3 separate regions of the Homo sapiens genome follow, and all the other regions are linked to region 1. Evidence: fine-mapped expression QTL. A gene starts in region 1. Each other region holds a variant in brackets. All regions are shown on one strand. Distances are between the middles of the regions. Region 1 holds the start of YJEFN3 (YjeF N-terminal domain containing 3). Region 2 overlaps GATAD2A (GATA zinc finger domain containing 2A). Region 3 holds the start of HAPLN4 (hyaluronan and proteoglycan link protein 4).

Region 1 (8,153 bases):
ACATCCGTAATCCCAGCACTTCAGGAGGATGAGGCGGGTGGATCACTTGAGGTCAGGAGTTCCAGACCAGCCTGCCCAACATGGTGAAACCCTGTTTCTACTAAAAATACAAAAAATTAGCCAGGCATGGTGGTGGGTGCCTGCAGTACGAGCTACTCAGGAGGCTAAGGCTTGAACCTGGAGAATCGCTTGAACCCGGGTGGCAGAGGTTGCAGTGAGCCGAGATCGTGCCACTGCACTCCAGCCCGGGTGACAGAGTGAGGCTCCGTCTCCAAAAAAAAAAAAAAAAAAAAAAAAAAAAAAGGTTATTTGTTGCCAGAAAATGTGGCTACTTAGCTGGAGGTGAAGCTCTGCCATCCACTTCACTGAATGACTGGGGTCCGTCTCCACCTCTCGGAGCAAAACTGAATATTCGGGTGACCTACACAATTGGTCAGACTAGGCTGGGCGTGGTGGTGGACACCTGTAATCCCGGTGACCCAGGAGGCTGAGGCAGGAGGATCACTTCAATCTGGGAGGTGGAGGCTGCAGTGAGCTATGATCACGCCACTGCACTCTAGCCTGGGCGACAGAACAAGACCTTGTCTCTAAGATAATAATAAAAAACACAAACATAAATAAAAAGAGCCAGGCCTAGAAAAGTTGGAAAAACAACTAATGATTCAGAGAAGCCGAGTGGCTTGCCCAGGATCATGCAGGAAGCAAGTTGGGAAACTGGGTCTTTCCCCCTTGGTGTCTCCAGAGCCACAGGACATGAACAAAGACATAGAGCCAGACCTACAGATGGTGGATGTTTTGAGGGGATGAATCCTGAGACTCTTTCCTTCAACTCTCTGAGTGGGAGATGTCTGCCCTCTGGCCAATTTTGCAGCATGATAAGGCCAGGTAGGCAGAGTGCAGGAGAAGGAGGACTGCTATGGGATGGGAGTCAGCGAGGGCTTCCTGGAGGAGGAGGCCTGGCACATCGTGGCAGGTAATGCAGGGGCAAGAATAGCAAAAGCCAAGGCCCTGGGGTGGGGAGGAGCCTGGTATGTTCAAGGGGCAGAAGGGAGGCTGAAGCAGAGTGATCAAGCGGACAGGGCAGGCAGAGCCTCAAATCCCAGACTGAGGAACATGGTGAAGAGGACACTTCGGGGGTCCACACATAAAGACGGAGACAGAGACTCAGGGCAGGAAAGTCACATGCCCTGGGACACCCCAGTAAACAGAGCCAAATTCAAACCTCAGCCTGTCTGCAGCTGACATAGGATGAAGTTGAAGGACGGGGTGAGGAAAAGGAGCTCATGGTGAAGTCAGACAGAGTCCCCCCGGGGCAGGCCAGCGCAGCTCCCAGGAAAGCACATAGGAGGTGCGTTTGCATTCGGGGTGAGGAATCTGGCAGGCTGGGAACATGGCTCATTCCTCCACCTCCATCTTGTGACAGCTCTGACTGCTGCCCCCGCAGGAGGGTGCAGGGAGGAAGTGGAGGGCGGGAGGGCGATGCATTCCTCTTCTTCTGTCCCAAAGCTTTGGCCTCTAGCAGCCACTTGGAACATTCTCTTCCTGTCTAACTGGTCATTAGAATAATGGGGGCTCTGTGGGCAGAGGGTCGTCCAGGTTAGGAACCTGGGGGTGGGGCACAGCAGCAGCTGTGGGGTGGGGGTGGGAGGCTGCGTGGGAATTGGAGCCTGGTGAAGGAGGGTGGCAGGCAGGGCAGGTCCCTTCTGCTGTTGTGGGATTCTGGGGGTGTTCAGTGGTGCCTTTTGCTATCCCGAATCTCGGCCCCTAGATGAGAGAAGCTTCAAGGCCCCAAGGATTTCCCTGTCAGACCCAGGAGGCCTGAAGTGGCCTGGGTCCAAAGGGAACTGGGCCTGACACTCGCCAAATGCTTCCAGGAGGGGGCTTTCTGGGAGGTGAAACCTCAGGCCAGGGTGGCCATGCCACACTCACCCTGCTCTCAGTCCTACCTGCTTCTCTCCACCTCACACCTCTGCCCACCAGACCACCACGGGGGATCACCTGGCCGCACACAGCAGCCTCCTGCCCCCAAAACTCAACATGAGCCTGGGGGGGCTTTGAAAACTCGAACACCAGATTGCATCACCGGGTCCCAAACCTGCTGATGGCTCCCGAGGGCTCTGGGAACATTCAAACTCCAAACTCCTCACCATGCCTAAGAGGCCCTTCTGTGTCTCCAGCCTCGTCAGCCAGTTCCCCACTACGTTCTAGCTCCTACCCACCCCTGAGAGCCCCCTCACTCCCCTCACTTAGCATTTGAGGCCCCCCTCACCTCACCCCTTCACCCCAAGGTGAAGTCACAGCTCCTAAAACACTCTTCCCTAGACTGAGTCTGGACATCGGCTGAGGGGACACGTGCCCTGCTAGGTGGGCAGTGGGCAGGAGCTGTTGGACGCATCTGGTTCACAGTGAGGTCAACAGCCTTGCCTGGGGTCCCATGTCACAAAGGCTGAGGAGGATGAGGTGAGAGTCACAGCCACGGCGCCAGTTCTAGATCCCAAACTCACCAACCTCTGGCAAACAGGCCCTGCGTTCCAAATCTGCTCTAGCCATGACTGCCTTCCCCAGGCCTGTTTCCTCCTCTGGACAAGGGAGGTGGTAGCATTTGAGCTAAGCTCCGCTCTTCCCATGTCGGCAAGTGGGGGCTGCAGCTCCAAGGCCCTGGGAGAGATGGAGAGTGGGGGTGGGCCACGGTTGGGGTTCGGTGGGGGAGCGACCAGCGCTGCTGATGAATCATTCATGAGGGGCGGGCTGCCCCGGAGGCAGTTTCCCCAGCAACGCAGCTTAGTGTCTCCAGCAAGATGCCAGGAGGGTCTCGGATTCCCGGGATTCCCAGGCCCGTCTTGGCCATATCCCTGCCTCCGGTTCCCCACCGTGGTCATGCCTCTGCCGTTGAACCTCCATCCCGGCTGTGCCCGTCTCCAGTCCCCGGACCCCATTCTGTCCCAGCTATGACCCTGCCTCCGGTCCTACGGGCTGCTCCTGGCCCCATGGGAACCATGCCCGTCTCCAGCTTCCCTCTCCCCAGCTGACCTGAGGAAATGCCGCTCTTCGGGCGCCTCCGACGGGTCTGGGCCGGCTGCGCTGCTCATGGCCGAGGTGAGCCCGGGCGCCGGGCGCTGCCGCCACCGCCACCGCCTTTTAAGCGCATCCGTGGAGGGAGGGGACGCCCCCTCTTCTCCTCCCTCCCGCCCACCCTGCATGCCCGCCAATCAGGAAGCGCCGCGAAGGCGCTGCGCGTCACCATTGGTCGGTGGACTCAGACGGACTTCACCCTTTCGTGCCAGGAGCCCACAGCAGAGGCACCTGGCCAATCTTGGTTGCTTCCCCCGACTTACTTTCCCTGCAGATATCCCCGTGTCTCTGAGCTTCCCTCTCAGGGAGCGAGGAGCCCCTCCGCAGACAAATACCCTCGCCATGCCTACAATTGGCAGGGCTGCACAAGGTATGGTGGCTCACGCCTGTAATCCTGTAATCGCAGTGACACGGGAGGCTGAGGCGGGAGGATCACTTGTATCCGGGAGGTCAAGGCTCCCCCCACTCTCCAGACCTCCGTGGAGAAGGTCTGACCCAAAGCTGACCCAGGGGCCCCCAGCCTGGAGAGGTAAGTGGGCTGCTGACAGGCATGGTTTCAAAAGGGAGGCAGGAGAGTCCAGGTATATCGGAGGCAGAGAGGAGGCCGCCAGTGGATCCAGGGGCAGCCCCTAGGTGTGTTTTGAGGTCACCCTGTGCATATCTGCTGCGTCCCCATGCTACATGTGATCCGGTGGTGCCTAGCTGGGCCCTCTCCCCCTTCTTTCCCCCAGTCCCCAGGAAAACAGGCAGGCCAGGTCTGCAGAGCATTTATTCCGTCCCAGTGGGGAGGGGCAGGGATCCAGGTGGCCGGAGGGCACAGGGCCTACGTGTACCACATGAAGCCGTGGCTGGCATGGAGAGCCTCCTCTGTGGTGCGCAGCCCGTACAGCTCCCCGATCAAGGGGGGCACCCAGCGGGTTGTGTGGAACACAGACTCCCCCACCTGTGGGGACAGTGGGGTATGGGTAGAGGCACAGCCACCCATATACAGCCTGCTAGGACCCATCCCCCAGGATCAGTGGCCCCTGTGCGTGGCAGGCGCTACAGCCTTCCCTTGTGGGACCTGGCACCCACCACCCCCTTGGTCCTGGGGTTTCTATAGAAAGCTGTGGGAGCTCCCCAACCCCAGGCCCTGTCTCTGCCGTGGCTGGCACCTCTGCCCTCCCAGCCGGGACCCACCTTCCAGTCGGGCACGTCCTTCATGATGATGGCCTCCTCCTCCAGGTTCTCCCGAAGCATCTGCAAGGTCCTGTGGGGATGGGGCCGATGGTGGGGGTGGGGCCTCAGTGCCCTGAGGGGCCCCTGCCTAGGGCCCCTAGTAGCACCCCTTCAAGCCTCCCTCCGACCCTGTCTCCTTTTCCCCCAGCCAACTCCTAGCTTTTCTCTTGCCCCAACCCCAGTGCTGCCTCCTCCTCCAGGAAGCCTTCCGGTTCGCCCCCTTGGGTCTCCACTAAGTCTCCACGCCTGAGGATGCAGCTGACGGCACAGGGCGATGGCCCCCACGTGCATTCTGGCCACCTTCGGGGATGCAGGTCAGGCCCTGCAGCCTGGGGCCTTCCGGCCAGTGACCTCCCAACCTTGGCCCCTGCGGTGCTACCTCCGGTCGGTTTCTGCCTGTAACAGTGGCAACAGCGCGATGCGAGCCTCGAAGTCCTCGATTTGTAGGCGCCTGTGAAAGCCCGAAACCCACACTCAGGTCAGACCAGGCTAGGTCGGGGGAGCACAGGCAGCACAGACCTCAGGGGCCAGGGTGCTGCTGGGGGAAGAGGCGGAGGGGGGCGGGGAGGCAGGCAGGGGGCAGGGCGAGGGTCGCGGGAAGGGCAAGGGCTGTGGGCAGAGCCCACCAGGAGCCTGAGAGGAGGGCGGGTGCAGGCAGCTGCACGGGTGACTGCCCACAAGACTGTTGGCTTTCTACTTTCTTTTCAATTAAAAACTTTTTTTATCCTAAAAATAACTCTGCCTGATGATCGCGACGAAGAGGGGGTGACTTCATCACGGGGCTCTGGGCCTCACAAAACCACGTCCCCTTCATCTCAAAATAATCAGTGTGTGAGGCTGGGGCAGGCGGGGCCACAATCTTTCCTTTCTTCTCCCTGCTTTCTGGCAGTTTCCAAGTTCCCTGCAATGACCCCCATCTCCCAGTCCTGCCTGGCCTGCGTTGGGGTTGGGGGAGGGGTGGGGAAGGAGTGCCCAGCCTGTGACACAGGGAGAGGGGGGCGCCTGGCCCTAGTTCATCTGGCCCTGTGTGTCCACTGCCTGGTGTGGTCTGGTTTGAGCCTGGTCACCTCTGACAAAATCCTGCTTAGAGGGCCCGAGGCAGGCCCCCCACTCATATCCTGTCCTAATCTGGATCCACGGGTCCCAACCCTCCTCACTAGACACATTTTTTGGGGTGGCGAGGACAGGGTTTCCCTCTGTTGCCCAGGCTGGTCTTGAACTCCTGGGCTCAAGCAATGCTCCCACCTTGGCCTCCCAAAGTGCTGGGATTGCAGACATGGAGACATCTCGAGGACAGAGCCTAGAAGTGGAAGTGCTGGGTCTGGATCTGCACTTTCTGGGGCCTGGGATTGCACAGCCAAGTCCAAGGGGCCCGTTCACCCCTCGCCAGCACAGACAACAGCGGAATGCTACAGGACCCCGACAACTCGCCGGGGGGGCACTTTCAGACAACGCCCACCAGGGGCCCTACCTGCGCTCACGGTTCCACTTCATTATGCTCCAGTGCCCGTAGATCAGGGTTCCAATCCCTATGGCCAGCATGCTGTAGCCTGTGAAGAGAGGCGCTGCTCAGCGGGCCAGCCCGCCCCCAGACACCCTCCTCCACAGCTCCAGGCGCTGCCCACTCTGCAATCAGGGGACACTGGCGGCTTCTCAGGAGTGAGGCTGCTTGGACTGTGACACCTCTGCCCCCATGCCAGGGGTTTTCTGAAAGGTACAAGCCAGGCAGCAACCTCAGGAGGCCTGAGGGTCTAGATGGTGGTTGCTAGGGGGGCCCCAGGTCCATCGTGTTCTAGAAGGCTGTTTGGACCCTGGGCGGCAGGCTGGCCCTGAAGTGGAAGGGCAGTTCTGACAGTGTCCATGGTGGCTCCCGGCCACCTGGGCCACAGTTCCGCGTGCTGCCCTGCGGGGGCTGCACACAGCTGCCAGGGACAGGCAGTGCCCTGTGGGGGCTGCCCAGCCACCCCCCGGACTCTAGGGGTGGCCGTGCTACCTCTTGGCTCTGCAGGGTGAAGCCCCCTGCCCTGCACCCCAGGAAGGACCTAGGCCATCATGAATATTTACTGAGCACCAGTGGGGCCTTGCTCTAATCCTGACTGACAGGCTGGGGGCCCACTGGGATCTTCAGAGAGGCCTGGGCTGTCTGGGATCTGGCTCCCAGGCTCACCCTGCACCCTCCAGATCCTTCCAGCCCCAGTCTCTTCTCTGGACAGGCTTTGCACTTGGTGGGATGAATGAAAAGCTCAGGTAGGCCAGGCTCCAGTCAACACCCAGGAAATGACCAGCAGGTGGAAGGCAAGGCCATCTCCAGGCCTCCAGGGCACTGGCCCTGCTCTATGCCTGCTGGGGCTACTCTGTGCCTGCCGGGCCCTGCTCTGCACCTGTCATGCTCTTCTGCCTTCAGCTCTGCTCCAGCATGGAGCTCACGGGGGCACCTCTGCTAGACCCGGAGATAAATGAGAAACTGGCTCAAATTTGTACCTGGTTATTTAACCTGTTAGAAGCCCAAGTCAGGGCTAAGACATTTCCATACTACAGGTAATGAGGGTGTGCTGGGTCCGGGCTCAGAGGCACATCTCTGGAGAGGCCCAGGGTGCTCAGGGCCAGCTCCCAGCTCTCAGCCTCCTGTCTAGCACATGGGAGGTTTCATCAGCTGCCTTGTTCATTTTTTTTTCCTTTTTTGGTTTTTGGTTTTGAGACAAGGTCTCACTCTGCTACCCAGGCTGGAGTGCAGGGGCGCAATCATGGCTCAATGCAGCCTCCAACTCCTGGGTTCAAGTGATCCTTCCACTTTAGCCTCCCGAGTAACTGGGACCCCAGGTGTGTGCCATGTCCAGTTAACTAATTTTTGTACAGATGGGGTCTTGCTATATTGCCCAGGCTGGTCATATCTCGTTCTTTTCTTTTTTTTAATTAATTTATTTTTGAGACGGAATCTCACTCTGTTGCCCTGGCTGGGGTGCAGTGGCAAGATCTTGGCTCACTGCAACCTCTGCCTCCTGGGTTCAAGCGATTCTTCCACCTCAGCCTCCGGAGTAGTTGGGACTACAGGCGCCCACCACCACGCCAGGCTAATTTTTGTATTTTTAGTAGAGACAGGGTTTCACCATATTGGCCAGGCTGGTTACGACCTCCTGACCTCATGATCCACCTGCAAGTGCTGGCATTACAGGCGTGAGCCACCGTGCCCGGCCATATCTCATTATTTTCCACGGCTACAGAGAACCCAGGGGACAGACCTGGGCTGCCCTCAGCCTTCTGGTGCAGAAAATGGGCCCTTGGGGAGAACCTGCACCCTCACACCTGCGCACTCATACGCAGGCCCATCTGTAAGATAAATTCCAAAGAAGAAATAAATTCCAAAACTTATCCCACAGCTGTGTGTACAAGACAGCGTGGCACTGGCATAGAACAGAGATGTATGAGATGACAGAAACAATGCAGGGCCTCTTGTATTTGCATGCAGCCTGCACAGGGCTCTTCCTCCTCGCCAACCACAGGGGGGCCAAGGCCCCAGGCCTCAGAGTCTGTGCCTTAGGAACTGCTAGTCTGGTGGGGAACATGGTGAGGGGCACGCACAAAAGGGTGTGTGGACCATTCTTTTTGTTTTTGGTTTTGGAGACCGGGCCTCTCTCTGTTGTCCAGGCTGGAGTGCAGTGGTGGGATCAAATTTTTTCGGCTCACGCTTGTAATCCCAGCATTTTGGGAGGCTGAGGTGAGAGGATCACTTGACTAGGAGTTTGCAACTAGCCTGTGCAACACAGTGAAACATTTACAAAATACGTATTTTATTTTATTTTTTGAGACAAAGTCTCGCTCTGTAGCCCAGGCTAAAGTGCAGTGGTGCGATCTCAGCCCACTGC
Region 2 (8,171 bases), 120 kb after region 1:
AGACCATCCTGGCCAACATGGTGATACCCTGTCTCTACCAAAAATACAAAAATTAGCTAGGCGTGGTGGCATGTGCCTGTAGTCCCAGCTACTTGGGAGGCTGAGGCAGGAGAATTGCTTGAACCGAGGAAGCAGAAGTTGCAGTGAGCCAAGAACATGCCACTGCCCTCCAGCCTGGTGACAAAGTGAGACTGTCTCAAAAAAAAAAAAAAAAAAAATATTAGCCCGGCATGGTGGCGCACGCCTGTAATCGCAGCTACTTGGGAGGCTGGGGCAGGAGAATCGCTTGAATCTGGGAAGCGGAGGTTACAGTGAGCCAAGATTGTGCCACTGCATTCCAGCCTGGGCAACAGAGTGAGACTCCATCTCCAAAAAAAAAAAAGGCTGGGCGTGGTGGCTCACGTCTGTAATCCCAGGGCTTTGGGAGGCCAAAGCGGGCAGATCACCTGAAGTCGCGAGTTCAAGACCAGCCTGACCAACATGGAGAAGAAACCCTGTCTCTACTAAAAATACAAAATTAGCTGGGTATGGTGACACATGCCTGTAATCCCAGCTACTCGGGAAGCTGAGGCAGGTGAATTGTTTGAACCCAGGAGGCGGAGGTTGCAGTGAGCTGAGATCATGCCATTGCACTCTAGCCTGGGCAACAAGAGCAAAACTCCGTCTAAAAAACATAAAAAAAAAAAAAGTAAAGACATCACCTACTCAACACTACTACAGTTTTTTGGGGTTTTTTTGGGGGGAGGGGGGCGGGGGCAGGTCTCACTATGTTGTCCAGGCCAATCTCAAACTCCTAGCCTCAAGCAATCCTCCCACCTCAGCCTCCCAAAGAGCTAAGGTTACCTGAGCCACTACACTTGGCCACTATAGTTTTTTTTTAAGGCTGCCCTGAGAAACCAGAGGCAGCCCTAAGTTCTCCCTCCCCATGTCCTGCCCCATCCTCACCCTACAGACACCCAAAATGACCTCAGGACTCAAAAAAAAAAAAAAAAAAAAAAAGGGGGCAGGGTGTGGTGGCTCACACCTGTAATCCTAGCACTTTGGGAGGCCAAGGTGGGCAAATCACTTGAGGCCAGGAGTTCAAGACCAGCTTGGCCAACATGGTAAAACCCCATCTCTACAAAAAAAAAAAAAGAGCTGGGCGTGGTGGCGTGCGCCTGTAATCCCAGCTACTTGGGAGGATGAGGCACAAGAATCGCTTGAACCGTGATGCAGAGGTTGCAGTGAGCCGAGATTGCACCACTGCCCTCCAGACTGGACAATGGAGCAAGACTCTGTTTCAAAAAAAAAAAAAAAAAAAAAAAAAGACAAGGCCCTGAGGAAGGAAACTGACCAATGGACCTACATAAATAAAGTAAGAAGGAAGCTAAAACAAAATTCACCAAGCCACAAAGACATCAGTAAGAACAACAGAGATCTGAAAGTCTAATTCCAGGAGAAAACAGGGATATATCCTCATTCCTTCTGCAAGTCAACCTTGGGCAGGCCACTCCTCCTCCGCTTGAGCCTCAGTTTCCTGTTTGTGCCCAGTGTTGGGTTCAGCAGAGCACAGTACACAGAAGAAAGTCCCAGGTAGAATCCTCAGTTTGTCTGCTACCCAACTCCCAAAAATAGTTATATTTCTAATCCTATAACCTGACAGATACAAACTAACAATAAGACTGCAATTACATTTGAACCTATACTCAGTATATGTTAATATACTTGCCCAAGAAAACTTCAAAAGCAGACCAGGCAACTCCTACCACCAACATCTGAGGCTCCCACCCCCTCCCCAGACTTCGGCATCAGGAAATGTTGCTTGTACAGTCAGAAAAGAGACAACAACAAAAAGACTCAACACTAAAAACTTGACCAAAAGTTTGGGGAAGGGAGGCAGGAGACAGATGGCCCACATACAAACTACCGAGGTCAGTTCATCAAACGAACGTATTAATAAAAACATCAAACACAGCCAGGCACGGTGGTTTACACCTGTAATCCCAGTACTTTGGGAGGCCAAGGTGGGTGGATCATCTGAGGTCAGGAGTTCGAGACCAGCCTGACCAACATGACGAAACCCCATCTCTACTAAAAATACAAAAATTAGCCAGGCAAAGTTATGGGTGTCTGTAATCCTAACTACTCGGGAGGCTGAGGCAGGAGAATCGCTTGAACCCAGGAGGCGGAGGTTCAAGCAGTGAGCCGAGATTGCGCCACTGCACTCCAGCCTGAGCGACAGAGTGAGACTCCATCTCAAAAAAACAAAAACAAAAACACCAAACACACCAGCAAACTCTCCCTGGGTTAGAGTGGCTATAAGAGAACCCTAGGAAAGGAGCTGACTACAGAATCCTCTGAAAGAACCACCACTGAACGGGGTGGGCATGAACCCTCGGCAAACCCAGGGACACTACATGAGAAGACAGAAAATGAAGTTCAGGTGTTCCGTCAATGATACGCAAGTCCTGAGAACAGCACAGGTCTCGAGAGTGACGGAACCAATTCAATCGATGCCTTCAAACCAAGAATTCAGTTCACCACTCTCCTACTTTCTCCAGCCACACTTGAGCAACAAGGAAAAATGTTCCTCTGCGGATGTGAACGAAGGTGGTAGCAGCAGTTTTCAAAACTTGCTGGCAGAGTGAGCCTGTGCTAAACACACAAGAGAACTAAAAATCTGCTGTCACTACCACCAAATTCCACCAACTTGAAACCCCAGCAACAAGAAGACAGATGCTCCTCAACTTATGATGGGTTTATTAGAATGCAGCCCCACTGGGAGTAGAAAATATCAAATGCATTTAACACAGCCACTGGTCCCATTTTACAATTATTCGACTTAAAATTTCTCAACTTTACCATGGTACGAAAGGGATCTGTGTTCAGGAGAAACTGTTACAAATCAAAGGGAGCTCCTCGACTTACAATGGGGTTACCTCTGATAAACCCAACATAAAGTTGAAAAATTTTAAGTCAATCCATCGTAAATTGGAGGCCTACTTTACTGGCCTAAAACCTGCCCACCTCCGAGGTCAGGGCAAGCAGCCGTCTCTAAGGTAAGAATGTGTTGAGTATAGATTCACAGCCACTGACTCAAAGGTTAATTGCACAGAATGGCTGTGACTGGAGAAAATGTTAAGTTGGTATTATTTGTAGAGTTAGGGCCACAGGGTTTTTCACATCCCTTCCAGATAATCTGATCAGACCTTTTTTATCCCCCCCGCAGACAGAGTCTCACTCTGTCGCCCAGGCTGGAGTGCAATGGCATGATCTCCTCTCACTGCAGCTTCAACCTCCCAGGCTCAACCGATCCTCCCATCTCAGCCTCGCAAGTAGCAGGGCCTACAGATGCATGCCACCACACCTGGCTAATTTTTTTTTTTTTAAGAGATGGGGAATCGGCCGGGCACGGTGGCTCACGCCTGTAATGCCAGCACTTTGGGAGGCCGAGGCAGGTGGATCACAAGGTCAAGAAATCAAGACCATCCTGGCCAACATGGTGAAACCCCGTCTCTACTAAATATACAAAAAATTAGCCGGGTGTGGTGGCGGGCACCTGTAGTCCCAGCTACTTGGGAGGCTGAGGCAGGAGAATGGCATGAACCCCGGAGGCGGAGCTTGCAGTGAGCTGAGATCGCGTCACTGCACTCCAGCCTGGCTGACAGAGCAAGACTCCGTCTCAACAAAAAAATT[A/T]AAAAAAAAATTAAAAATTAAAAAAAAAGAGAGAGAAAAAAAAGCGGCCTGAGACAGCCCACCAAAAAAAAAAGAGAGAGAGAGAGAGAGAGATGGGGGATTGCTACATTGCCCAGGCGGGTCTCGAACTACTGGGCTCAAACAATCAGCCTGCCTTAGGCTCCCAAAGTGCTAGGATTACAGACGTGAGCTGCCGCGCCCGGCCTTGACCTGACTCTTAGGCCTCCAAATTGTTAGCTTGCAGTAGGATTCTGTTATAAAGAAAACCAAGCTCCTCAATCTGAGTGTTACATTATATGTGATAACTGAGATATGAGGTGTTCAAGAATCACTGTGTAGTTGACATCTGGGGGGAGAAAGCTTTTTGGCTCTGAGGTAAATGGAGAGGCAAAGGCTGGAATACCCCTGACTGCCTGTAGACACTTTCCACTTGTCCTCACAGCATCCTGTTAGGTCAAAGATGCTGTCTCCGCCAACATAAGAGAAAGCTGAGGCCAGGTGATCAGGTGACCCACCCAACGCTGAAGAGTGGTAAACTGCATATCGTCAGTGACAAAGCCAGATCTGTCCAACTCCAAGCTGGCTGGAGAGCTGTCAGTCTGAAAGGCAAGTCCAGGAGGATGAGATTCACCCTGGCGCTCCCAGACACCACTGCAAGTACCATCAAACCACCTACTTCCAGCCTCCACCCAGAGTCCACTCAGTGACAGGGACCCCTCTCAGTTCTCTAAGGAAGGCTCCCATGACAGATCTGCCCGGCAAACAGCTTCCCATCTCACAGATGGAAGTCCGGATGCTGGCTTCCACAAGCCCTGGGCCAGGAAAGAGGCTGCCTCCTGGCTTGGGGCACAACCAACCCAGGCATTCAGTATCGTCAAGAAGGCCCCAAGGCAGTGGAAAAAATAGACAACGTCTGAAATCAGAAAGGCTGGGTTGGGTCCCAGCCGCCGAATAATGAGCAAGGTGACTATGGCAAGTATCACCTCCTGTGGGGAACTTTGCCTTCTTCACAGGAACATGGAGAGAGGGGAATAGGCTGGGGCACAAAGCTGAGGCATGCGCCCCAGTGTGGCTCCAAAGGGGGCATGCAGACAGTGACAGTTTGCCATGAGGGTGGTGTCATCCCCCACAGAAGAGGTGGGGCAGTTGTTAATGCTTGTGAACTCTGGCTCATCTGTTACAGTCATAACAGTACTCACTGAACTGCAACATGTGGAACACACAGGCACTGGGGTCGATCATTTGCACTTGTTATCTCACTCCCAACACAGCCTTCCACGGGAGATAGTAAGTACCCCCTTGACAGAAATGGGAAACAGGGGTGATGTTCAACAAGGTCTTTCGCTAGGAAGTGGCTGGGCAGAGCTCACACCAGGCTGTCTTGAGGCAAAGCCAGGGCTGTCCTGGATGCCACTAGAGACAGGCTGCTCAGCAATAGGCACACGGCCACACTTGGCAAAAAGCAGGTGCCCCCTAGACTCAAAGTGGCCTCCTTGGCACAGGAGGAGCTGCTGTGCCACCATAATGCAGCAGTATTTTTAAAGTGTGTGCTCGAAGGCACCACCTTATTTAGGCTACGTTTCAAGGTTCAAACCAGAATATCTAACCGGCAAGGCAGGCCACGCAGCGCCAGGTCCTGAGACGGAACTGCAGGAGGAATAGCTGAGGGATTCTTCAACAAATCCTTCAAACAAGTGGAATTTCTCCCCAATCCTGTACCACATGGCCACACCCCTCCCCACAGGCATAGCTACTATCTTTGAGGCCAAGCAGCAGGAAAGCCCTGAAGCCTTGACCACTCCACCCACCACCCCCATCCCCCACCCCCTGCCCCAAGAACTCCCACTTTGACTTGCTGGGAGCCCTCCTTTAGAGTACTGCTCATCTCCTGCCAGCAAATCCTATCTCAGAAGCTAGCCTCCAGCATCCTCGGAAATTGCAGGTCTTCAGCCCTTCCATATAAGGAACCCTAAAATCAGGAATCAGACAGAAAGGCAAGTTCCCTGACAAACTCACCTGTGAAGGTGCCTCTGGAGGCTGAGGAGAGACAAAGGGGGTACAGCGTACAGAGGAGCTGCAAGGGGCCCTGGCAACTGTGCAAACTGGTGCAAACGTGTGACATTCTCACTGAGGGCCCCTCTCTCCCACACCTAGAGGGTTTCGTGGATTCCCAATCACTTCCTGAGGCTACCTAAAGGTATTCTATTAGGGTAAATTCCTTTGTCTTCTAAAAGACTAACCTACATTTCCATCAGACAAAAAGAGGTCACAAATATAGTCTGGAAAGCACAAGGTGGGGGAGGGGCAAGAAGCCAACGGTCTGACACTCTCTTGACAAAAAAGTCCCAGATCCTGTTTGCGGGGATGCTGGGGAACCCATGCTCGAGCGGGATCTGTCCCCAGTGGTACCTTTGTTTCTGACAGTACGGGTCTCACTATTTCCACCTCGCTGCAACCACCAACCACTTCAAGATCCGTCTTTTTTTATCTCAACCTTCTTATTTTTAATACACTGCCTTCCTAATTCCATTCAAAGACATACCTTTGCACAGTTAGCACTTAAGTCCTGTTAACCTGGAAGACCCACAGTCTGAGGCCAGACTGTGGAAAGCTACCTCCCGAAGCAGCTCAGATAACTCAAAAGCATCCATTCTAACAAACGACCACACTTAGCAGGCAGCATAGTTCTGTATGCCTCAAACTATGACATTGCCAACTTGTTCTTCTGGTTCTGCCACACTTCCCAACCAGACAAGGGTTAGGAGGAAATCCCAGGGATGCTCTATTACCCCAGGACAGCTGCTCGAGAAGACTTCACCCACTCACCTATTTCATAATCTTCCTAGTTTTCTACAACCAGCATAAATTAACTCAATTATGGGGGGGAAAGGTCTAGAGAAAATAGCCCTGCCTGTTCCATTTGATGGCACAGAAACACCCCGAGTCCAAGCAGGTAGTTCTCCAGAAAAGCATCTGAGCTGCCCAGGCTTTGAGGTGTCAGTACATGCTAATGATGGTCCTTAAACAAATTCAGTGGTAAGGGCCATTACATTTTTGTCTCTGTTGGGAATTCATATATCCAAAACTCTGCTGGTCATTCTTAATTTTCTTCCAAGAGAACAAACACCAAAAAAAAAAAAAAAAAAAGCCAACATTTCAAGAATGGCTTTACAACTTTACCAGCCACATTCTTCAGAGGCATCCTTTAGTCATCTGCTAAGACCCAAAGAGGTCCCGGCTGTGAGCCTCACTGCACCAGCCCTTGCCTTAATCCCCTTCAAGAGGGTCCCCCTTCTTGTTCTCTGACCCCAGTAGGAGAAAGGTCCTTTCGGGCTCACCAGGTCACAGTGTCCTTCTCTCCTTGATCCCTGTAAGTTTCCCCATGTTTATAAGATTAATTACGACTCCTGGCCCACTAATCTCACTATAAACTCTACTGAGGAGGGATTCCTCGCAGTGTCGAAGGCACAGTATGCACTCTGATATTTGTTGAATATATCAATCTAGAAATCACTACCTGCAATGCCAGAAATTCAGAAAATAAATGATGCAAAACAAGTCAGAGGAGCTACTGAAGAGTTGAAAATTAGAGTATTTAAAACATGTTTCCTCATTAAAAACATACACACACACGCAAAATACAGAGACACTAAAAAGTTTTCTAAAAAAGAAAAACTATTGCTAATCCTAATGTAGAGACCTTTATTGACATTCTGGTACAAATCCTTCCAGGATTTTTTCCTACCGAAAGTAGCATTATATTTTTCCCTCACTATCAAAATATAAGATTATAGGATTTGCCAAATGATACTGCATTAATAGAGATGACTTGACATTTTAAAAAATGATGTCATCTGAGTGGAAATAACAATGCATCCGCCAGGCGTGGTGGCTCACGCCTGTAATCCCAGCACTTTGGGAGGCTGAGGTGGGCAGATCACGAGGTCAGGAGTTCGAGACCAGCCTGGCCAGCATGGTGAAACCCCGTCTCTACTAAAAATACAAAACTTAGCCGGGCATGGTAGTCCCAACTACTCGGGAGGCTGAGGCAGGAGAATTGCTTGAACCTGAGAGGCGGAAGTTGCAGTGAACCAAGATCGTGCCACTCCAGACTGGATGACAGAGCGAGACTCCGTCTCAAAAAAACAAACAAACAAACAAAACACACTGCATCCAAATCTTTCCATTCTCTATAGCCCTTCCAAGATGAGAAGCAATCTTCATAAAAACCAGCTTCGGAATTTTATGAGACAAATAAGAACTGAAAGATGAAGGAGGGGAGGGAATAAGTGAAGACAGAGGATACAGAAAATCCCTTGCAAATTTCCCACATCCTATAAACTGTTTCCTCTAGAAAAGGGCCAACTTTTCTGAGTCCAAAGCTGAAGAAGCGAATGCAAAGTAGCAACTAACTCTGTAGTTCAGTTCCTTAAAATCCAGCTGGTAACGCTGCTCCACTAGAACAAAGCAGGGCTAGCATGGTGTCCCCATGTCAC
Region 3 (8,151 bases), 270 kb after region 1:
CCCAACCCCTACCGGAGATCTACTGTATGTCTAGCTACTGGATCTTCACCAAAGAGTCAGCAGCAGGCTCAGAGAGGCCAACTGTCTCCTCCAAGGTCTCACAGCCAGTGAGGGGCAGACTTGAATTGGGGCCTGTGGCTCCAGTCCACAGCAGAGTGTGACTATCGTGAGGCCCCCACCCTGCACAGGGAGCGCCTTTGGGGTGCTGGAGACCAGGACTCCACTATGACTACCCAATGGACAGGTGGCCTGCAGGCCAAATGATCTCTTTCACCAGATCCCCCAGGTCCCCTGCCAAAGCACAGTAACCAAGATAGAAGACTCAGCCCCCTCCTCCATTTCAAAGATGGTTAAACTGAGGCTCAGAGAGGTTCTTCCCTGGCCTAAGTTCAGCTAGCAGGGTGAGGGAACTAGCTCTGCACTCCAAGTCCAGAGCGCTTCTTTCTCCGCCCGCGCTCCAGCCACTGCTCCAGGGGAGCGTGGGCCCCCGCGGCCCCTTTAATACACCCCGCCTCGCCCGCCTTCCTCCTCCCCTTGCAGGCAGACGCCGGGATTGCGCCGCCTGCAGGGACCTGCCCAGTCTTAACCGGGTGTGCGGGGAGCGCAGTCCGGGTGCGTAGGGGCCGCTCGGCGGGGGCCGCGCGGGCAAGATGGTAAGTGGGGCTGCGGGCGCGGGTGGTGTGTGCCCCGTCTCCCCAATCTTGGATTCTATATCTCTCTGCCTCTGAATCTATATCCCTCTGAGTTTCTTCTGTCTCTTCCTTTTCTCTGTCTCTCACCCTCTTTGATCTCTCTTTTTGGCACTCTAGGTTCTCTCCCTCTCCATTTCTCCCTGCCTCTCTCCATCTCTGTCATCCTCTCTGCCTTTTTCCTCTCCTCTCCGTTTCTGTCTTTCCCTGTCCCTATCTCTCCCTCCTCTTCTCTGAGTCTCTCTGCCTCTGGCACTCTCCTGTCTCTCCCTCTCCCTTTCTGTCTCTCCCTCTCCCTCTCTGTCGCTCCCTCTGCCTCTCTGTCTCTCCCTCTGCCTCTCTGTCTCCCTCTGCCTCTCTGTCTCTCCCTCTCCATCTGTGTCTCTCCCTCTCCATCTCTGTCTCTTCCTCTGCCTCTCTCTCTCTCCCTCTGCTTCTCTGTCTCTTCCTCTCTGTCTCTCCCTTTCCATCTCTGTCTTTCCCTCTCCATCTCTGTATCTTCCTCTGCCCCTCTGTCTCTCCCTCTGCCTCTCTGTCTCTCCCTCTCCATCTCTGTCTCTCCCTCTACATCTGTCTCTTCTTTTCCATCTGTCTCTCCCTCTCCATCTCTGCCTCTCTCTCTTCCCTTCCCCTTTTTCTGTGTCGCGCACTCTCTTCTCTGCCTCTCCCTGCCTTTCTCTCTGTCCCTGTTCTCTCCCCGCGTCTCTCCCTCTTTCTCTCCAGCTCTCCCCCCTCCCTGCCCGCCCCGGCCCGGTTTGCTGCAGTCTCCTGGCGCACGGATAACCTTGCTGCCGCCGCTCCTCCAGCTCTTCCCCACCCCCCTATCCCCGGCCCGGGCCAGGGCCAGAAGGGGGCGGGGCAGCGAGCCTCGGGTTTTGGGGTGGGGGGGAATGAGGCGGGATCTGGGGCAGGACTGAGGGCGGGGGGGAGTCTAGGGGCGTGGGTTCTTGCAGAAGCTAGGATGTGAGGTCCCAAGAGGAGGAGGGGGAGTTCTCCAGGACCCCGGAAAGGGTGGGGACATGGGCGTGAGAGAGGTCCTCGCTGTGGGGAAGGCAGGCCCGGGAGGGAGCCAGGCCTCCGAAAAGCCAAGGCTGGGAGGCTGGACTGAGCGCCCCGTGCCCGCCCCCCAGGTGTGCGCTCGGGCGGCCCTCGGTCCCGGCGCGCTCTGGGCCGCGGCCTGGGGCGTCCTGCTGCTCACAGCCCCTGCGGGGGCGCAGCGTGGCCGGAAGAAGGTCGTGCACGTGCTGGGTGAGTCAGGGCCGCTAAAAGTGGTCTTCTCCGCGAAAAGCAGAAGTGGCCAAGTGCGGAGAGGGGTAGCGGGTAGGGCGTTCCTGACGTCCGCGGTTCCCCCAGCCACTCCCCATCTGAGCCCCTCGCCCTCTCCCTGAGCCCCTGGACCCTTCTGATTCCCCGACCCCCACCCGAGTCTTCCCACGTTCCCCTCCCCAGAGACACCTTCCCCAGAGGCCCCCTTCTGCCCCTAGGCCCCTCCTCTGAACCCTGCTTGGTTGTCCTCAGAGGGTGAGTCGGGCTCGGTAGTGGTACAGACAGCGCCTGGGCAGGTGGTAAGCCACCGTGGTGGCACCATCGTCTTGCCCTGCCGCTACCACTATGAGGCAGCCGCCCACGGTCACGACGGCGTCCGGCTCAAGTGGACAAAGGTGGTGGACCCGCTGGCCTTCACCGACGTCTTCGTGGCACTAGGCCCCCAGCACCGGGCATTCGGCAGCTACCGTGGGCGGGCTGAGCTGCAGGGCGACGGGCCTGGGGATGCCTCCCTGGTCCTCCGCAACGTCACGCTGCAAGACTACGGGCGCTATGAGTGCGAAGTCACCAATGAGCTGGAAGATGACGCTGGCATGGTCAAGCTGGACCTGGAAGGTGATCAGCCGGTGGGGAGGATAAACCTTGCTTCTGAGGAAGGAGGGGGGCGGGGATGGCAAGGGACATAAACCAAATCAAGTTGGCCTGCAGGCATTTAGAAGGTTGGTTGGGGTAGAGCCCCCATATCTGGTTCTGGGTGATTTTCCTCCCCAGGGACATTGGCGATGTCTGGAGATATTTTACGTTGTCACATCTGGAGAAGGCAGTTGCTACTAGCCCCTAGTGGGTAGAGGCCAGGGATGCAGCTATACATCCTACCAGGCACAGGATAGTCCCCCACAAGGAGTGATCCAGGCCGGGCATGGTGGCTCACGACTGTAATCCCAGCACTTTGGGAGGTTGAGGCAGGCGGATCACCTGAGGTCAGGAGTTCAAGACCAGCCTGGCCAACATGCCAAAACCCCATCTCTAGTAAAAATACAAAAATTAGCCAGGCATGGTGGTGCATTCCTGTAATTCTAGCTACTTGGGAGGCTGAGGCAGGAAAATCTCTTGAACCCGGGAGGTGGAGGTTGCGGTGAGTGGAGATCGTGCCACTGCACTCCAGCCTGGGCGACAGAGCGAGACTCCATCTCAAAAATAAATAAATAAATACATAAATAAAATAAAATAAAAGTGATCCAGTCCAAAATGTCCACAATGAGGACACTGAGAAGTCCTGGGATAGGATTCAGGCACAGTGAGATCCAGGCACTCACACCGTGTCAGGAACCATCCTTCTGCTCTGCTTCCCAGGTAGGCTTTCTTCCGACAGGCTTCTCTTTCTGGAACCAAGACCACAGTGCCTAGGCTTTCACTTCCCTGCTTAGCAACTGATTTCCTAGGAGCAGCAGCTAGAGTCCCAGAGTTGTCCCTCACTGGCTCAGCTTGAGTCATGTGCCCAACTGTGAGCCAATCACTGTAGCTGGAAGATGGGATGCTCTGATTGGCTCACCCTGGAGCTGGGAGGTGGGGTTTCTATTTGAAGAATTCCCTCCCATTTGATTGGCCTTTTCCAGTTCTCTTTAGAAGATTCTAGGTGAGATTTCAGGGCCCTTGCTTGCTGACCTCCCTAACAATAACAAATAACAACAATAATAGCAGCAGCTCTCCTTTACTGGACATTTTCTGTGGCAGGTGCTTAGTTGAAGAGTTCTCAGGAGTCTCTAATTTAATTTCCTAAAAACCCCAAGGGAGACAGCTATTACCAGCAGATGGACAACAGGCTCAGAGAGGTTAGAGCCTTGCCCAGGACAGTGCTAGTTGGTGGCAGAGACAGGATTCAATCCCCAGTCTGTCAGCTCCAGGCCTTCTCCCTGGACCCTGTCTGCCTCTTTCCAGGGTACCCCACTCACCCCCAACCCGCGTCCCTCAAACACAGACACACAAAATACTTGAGCTGAACGGACTGTGAGTCCAATGAGGGACAAGTTCCAAAGTCATCAGAACTGAAGGTAGAAGGGAACCCAGTGGGTACTCCCTTGGACAATGCTGGGGGAATCAAAGGGGTCTTCACCTAGGGCCAATCTTCCAGGGGGTCCTAGTCTAGGAGAGTCAGCACTGAACGCAGGCTCCGTGGGCTCAGGGCTGGACCAGAGGGAGGGACCCAGTACTGGCGGAATGTCAGAGGCACACAGGACTCAATGGAAGAGGGTTTGGGAGTTGGATTTTGAAGGATGAATAGGAGTTCAACAGGTAGAATAAGGTGGAAAGAGCATGAGCAAAGTCCTCCAGAGGTGGAAGGGGATGGACACAAATAGTATGTTAAGGGGGAGGGTCAAGTGAATCCCAAGCTTAAAGTGAAGGGAGACAGCTATATGGGGTGTGAGCTGGGGAGGATCGTGGTCAGGTCTGAGGCCAGAGTGAGGAGGAATGGACTGAAAGGTCCCGGTTGAAGAGTCACATAGCACCCCAGACGTCAGGTGCATGAGGGTGGGCTGGGGTGTACCTGCTGATCCCGTGCGCCCCCCGCCAGGCGTGGTCTTTCCCTACCACCCCCGTGGAGGCCGATACAAGCTGACCTTCGCGGAGGCGCAGCGCGCGTGCGCCGAGCAGGACGGCATCCTGGCATCTGCAGAACAGCTGCACGCGGCCTGGCGCGACGGCCTGGACTGGTGCAACGCGGGCTGGTTGCGCGACGGCTCAGTGCAATACCCCGTGAACCGGCCCCGGGAGCCCTGCGGCGGCCTGGGGGGGACCGGGAG[T/C]GCAGGGGGCGGCGGTGATGCCAACGGGGGCCTGCGCAACTACGGGTATCGCCATAACGCCGAGGAACGCTACGACGCCTTCTGCTTCACGTCCAACCTGCCGGGTGCGTAGGCCTCACCCCAAGACTGGCCTCTGCTGCAACACTACCCCAACCCCGGGGCCTTCTTCCCCACCCAGCTCTTAGCGATCAGAAACAGGAGACCCCTCTCCCAAGAGTGCCTAGGCGCAGCACACACCGCCTGGTACCAACGCTGGTTGGGCCTAGGCTGGGGTCCCAGGCTGCAAAGGAGGAACTGTTCCTGGATCCCGGGGCCGAGGCCAGAGTCCTAGGCTGCATGCGGGGGGCAGTCCTGAATCCCACCGAAGCAGGGTCCCAGGAGCCGCACTAATAACCCACCCCCCACCTCACCCCCGCAGGGCGCGTGTTCTTCCTGAAGCCGCTGCGACCTGTACCCTTCTCCGGAGCTGCGCGCGCGTGTGCTGCGCGTGGCGCGGCCGTGGCCAAGGTGGGGCAGCTGTTCGCCGCGTGGAAGCTGCAGCTGCTAGACCGCTGCACCGCGGGTTGGCTGGCCGATGGCAGTGCGCGCTACCCCATCGTGAACCCGCGAGCGCGCTGCGGAGGCCGCAGGCCTGGTGTGCGCAGCCTCGGCTTCCCGGACGCCACCCGACGGCTCTTCGGCGTCTACTGCTACCGCGCTCCAGGAGCACCGGACCCGGCACCTGGCGGCTGGGGCTGGGGCTGGGCGGGCGGCGGCGGCTGGGCAGGGGGCGCGCGCGATCCTGCTGCCTGGACCCCTCTGCACGTCTAGGCTGGGAGTAGGCGGACAGCCAGGGCGCTTGACCACTGGTCTAGAGCCCTGTGGTCCCCTGGAGCCTGGCCACGCCCTTGAAGCCCTGGACACTGGCCACATTCCCTGTGGTCCCTTACAAACTAACTGTGCCCCTGGGGTCCCTGAAGACTGGCTAGTCCTGGCAGAACAGTACTTTGGAGTTCCCTGGAGCCTGGCCAGCCCTCACCTCTTCTGGATAGAGGATTCCCCCAACTCCCCAACTTTCTCCATGAGGGTCACGCCCCCTGAGGACCTCAGGAGGCCAGCAGAACCCGCAGGCTCCTGAAGACTGGCCACGCCTCCTGAGACCACTTGGAAACAGACCAACTGCCCCCGTGGTCGCCTGGTGGCTGGACCCCCGGGATTGACTAGAGACCGGCCGTACACCTTCTGCATCTCACTGGAGACTGAACACTAGTCCCTTGCGGTCACGTGGGACACTGGGCGCCTCCTCCTCCCCCTCCTCCTCACCTGGAGAGACTACAGGAACTTCAGGGTCACTCCCCGTGGTCACATGGAGGTTGTGGGCCGAGGCGCTTATTTTCCCTTATGGTGACCTGAGTCCTGGAGACTCCCATTCTCCCCCTCTCCCTGAGAGTCCCCTGCAGTTTCTGGGTAACAGGGCACACCCCTCTAGTTTCATGGGCGAGCACCCCCATCTGCCACCTCAGACTGACACACAGCCAGCTGGCTCACTTACTGGGGGCCACGTCCCACCCCTCAGATATTTCTTTGAAGGGAGAGCAAACCCACCCTGTCCTCTGACGTCCCTTTCCCAACTGTCACCAAACAGACCATCTTCCCAGGCCTGGGGACCGGTAAGATCCATGTCACTAGTTATGCAGAGCAGTTGCCTTGGGTCCCACTGTCACCAAGGCAACCAGTCCTGCTGCTACCTGTCACCTAGAGTCACACACCCCTTCCCTCATCAGGCACACCCATGAAGACAGTGCCTCCCTCCTCCAGCTGTAACCATGGATACCACACATTTCTCATCTCATTGGCCCCCACCCCAGAGACCTCCACCTCAACTTCTGGCTGTCCCTACCCTGACTCACCGCCATGGAGATCACCCTCCCCGAAGCTGTCGCCAGGGTGACCCAACATCCAGTTCTCCGGCTCTCACCATGGAAACAAACTGTCCCTGTCCCCAGGCCCACTCCAGTTCCAGACCACCCTCCATGCTCCACCCCCAGGCGGTTTGGACCCCACCACTGTTGCCATGGTGACCAAACTCTGGAGTCCGAGGTAACAGAACACCTGTCCCCCTAGGCTTTTCCTTGTGGACAACGGGGCCCTGTTCACCAAGCTGTTGCCATAGAGACTGTCAACGTTGTCCTCATGACAACCAGACTTCCAGTTCTCAGGAACTTCTCATTGTGGGCCAGAAGTCCTGGGTGCCTCCTACTAGGGCTACCCTACTGCACCCCATCAGGGGCCTGATGGCTGCCCCTTCCCCAGACAGGGCTGGACTTCTGGAGCTGCTAAGCCACCCTCCGTTTGCACGTTAACTCTATGCCGGATAGCAGCTGTGCACGAGACAATCTTGCAACACCCGGGCATGTTTGTCGTCGTCCTACAAATGAGGAAACCGAGCCTATGGCGTGCCCTGGTCTGTTGAGATATGCAAGCACTGAGCTCCTCTTTTGTCCTCTGAGACCCCATCTCCATTCTCACCCAGTTCCTCTCTCCTTCCCTGACCCCCACCCACATTTCCCTCCTTAGAGATCCAGGAGGGATGGAATGTTCTTTAAAATTCAACACCCACCAGGCTCTAAGCGGCGATCTGTGCTAAGAGGTCAGGACCCAGCCGAAGTCCTCGGCGTTGACAGGCAGCTGGGGGGACATGATCCATGGACAAGGCCATCCCGGCCGTGGGAGACCCCAGTCCCGAAGTCTTGCCTGCAGGAGTACTGGGGTCCCCCTGGGGCCCTCTTTACTGTCACGTCATCTCTAGGAAACCTATCTCTGAGTTTTGGGACCAGGTCGGTTTGGGTTTGAATTCTGCCTCTTCTTGCTCACTGTGTGACCAAGTGACAAACTCCTTCTGAACCTGTGTTCTCCCACTGTACCAGGGCTGTTCTGTGGTCCCCGTGAGTGCCAAGCATACAGTAGGGGCTCAATAAATCCTTGTTTCTTTTGATGAATGAGAAAATGAGGCAGCCAGTGGGTAATTCCTGTATAAATGCACTTTGGTAGATAAGATGTTACAAGCTTGGGGGGCTTGGGGTTTTTTTTGTTTTGTTTTTTTGAGATGGAGTCCTGCCCTGTCGCCCAGGCTGGAGTGCAGTCGTGCAATCTTGGCTCACTGCAACCTCTGCCTCCCGGGTTCAAGTGATTCTCCTGCCTCAGCCTCCCGAGTAGCTGGGATTACAGGTGCCTGCCACCACACCCGGCTAATTTTTGTATTTTTAGTAGAGACAGGGTTTCACCATGTTGGCCAGGCTGGTCTTGAACTCCTGACCTCAGGTGATCTACCCACCTCGGCCTCCCAAAGTGTTGGGGTTACAGGTGTGAGCCACTGCGCCTGGCCGGGCTTGATTTTTATTCTCTTTGGAAGTGGG

The links. PIP is the estimated chance that this variant, and not a neighbour inherited with it, causes the effect.
Region 2: its variant is fine-mapped to the expression of YJEFN3 in whole blood (INTERVAL, PIP above 0.99).
Region 3: its variant is fine-mapped to the expression of YJEFN3 in tibial nerve (GTEx, PIP above 0.99). The same link has a PIP of 0.9 or more in cerebellar hemisphere, cerebellum, coronary artery, liver and thyroid.

Annotation. Positions count from the first base shown.
Region 1 is chr19:19,523,869-19,532,021 of GRCh38, reverse strand. YJEFN3 (YjeF N-terminal domain containing 3) reads right to left here and starts at 3,111. Exons shown (of 7, transcript NM_198537.4): 1 at 3,031-3,111; 2 at 2,509-2,658. The coding sequence starts at 3,089. It overlaps NDUFA13 (NADH:ubiquinone oxidoreductase subunit A13), which reads right to left. Exons shown (of 5, transcript NM_015965.7): 2 at 5,762-5,840; 3 at 4,670-4,741; 4 at 4,252-4,321; 5 at 3,824-4,015. The coding sequence ends at 3,896. RefSeq lists enhancers at 1,445-2,376, 3,352-3,852, 6,194-7,169 and a silencer at 5,648-5,942.
Region 2 is chr19:19,407,666-19,415,836 of GRCh38, reverse strand. The region is part of intron 1 of GATAD2A (GATA zinc finger domain containing 2A); the gene reads right to left. Among named protein-coding and RNA genes, the nearest start is that of GATAD2A, 6.1 kb to the right of the region's middle. RefSeq lists a silencer at 4,733-4,822 and an enhancer at 4,933-5,042. The variant A/T (reference allele first, on the strand shown) is at 3,676.
Region 3 is chr19:19,255,232-19,263,382 of GRCh38, reverse strand. It overlaps HAPLN4 (hyaluronan and proteoglycan link protein 4), which reads left to right and starts at 579. Exons shown (of 5, transcript NM_023002.3): 1 at 579-653; 2 at 1,820-1,937; 3 at 2,208-2,570; 4 at 4,528-4,860; 5 at 5,175-8,151. The coding sequence starts at 651. The coding sequence ends at 5,566. The variant T/C (reference allele first, on the strand shown) is at 4,757.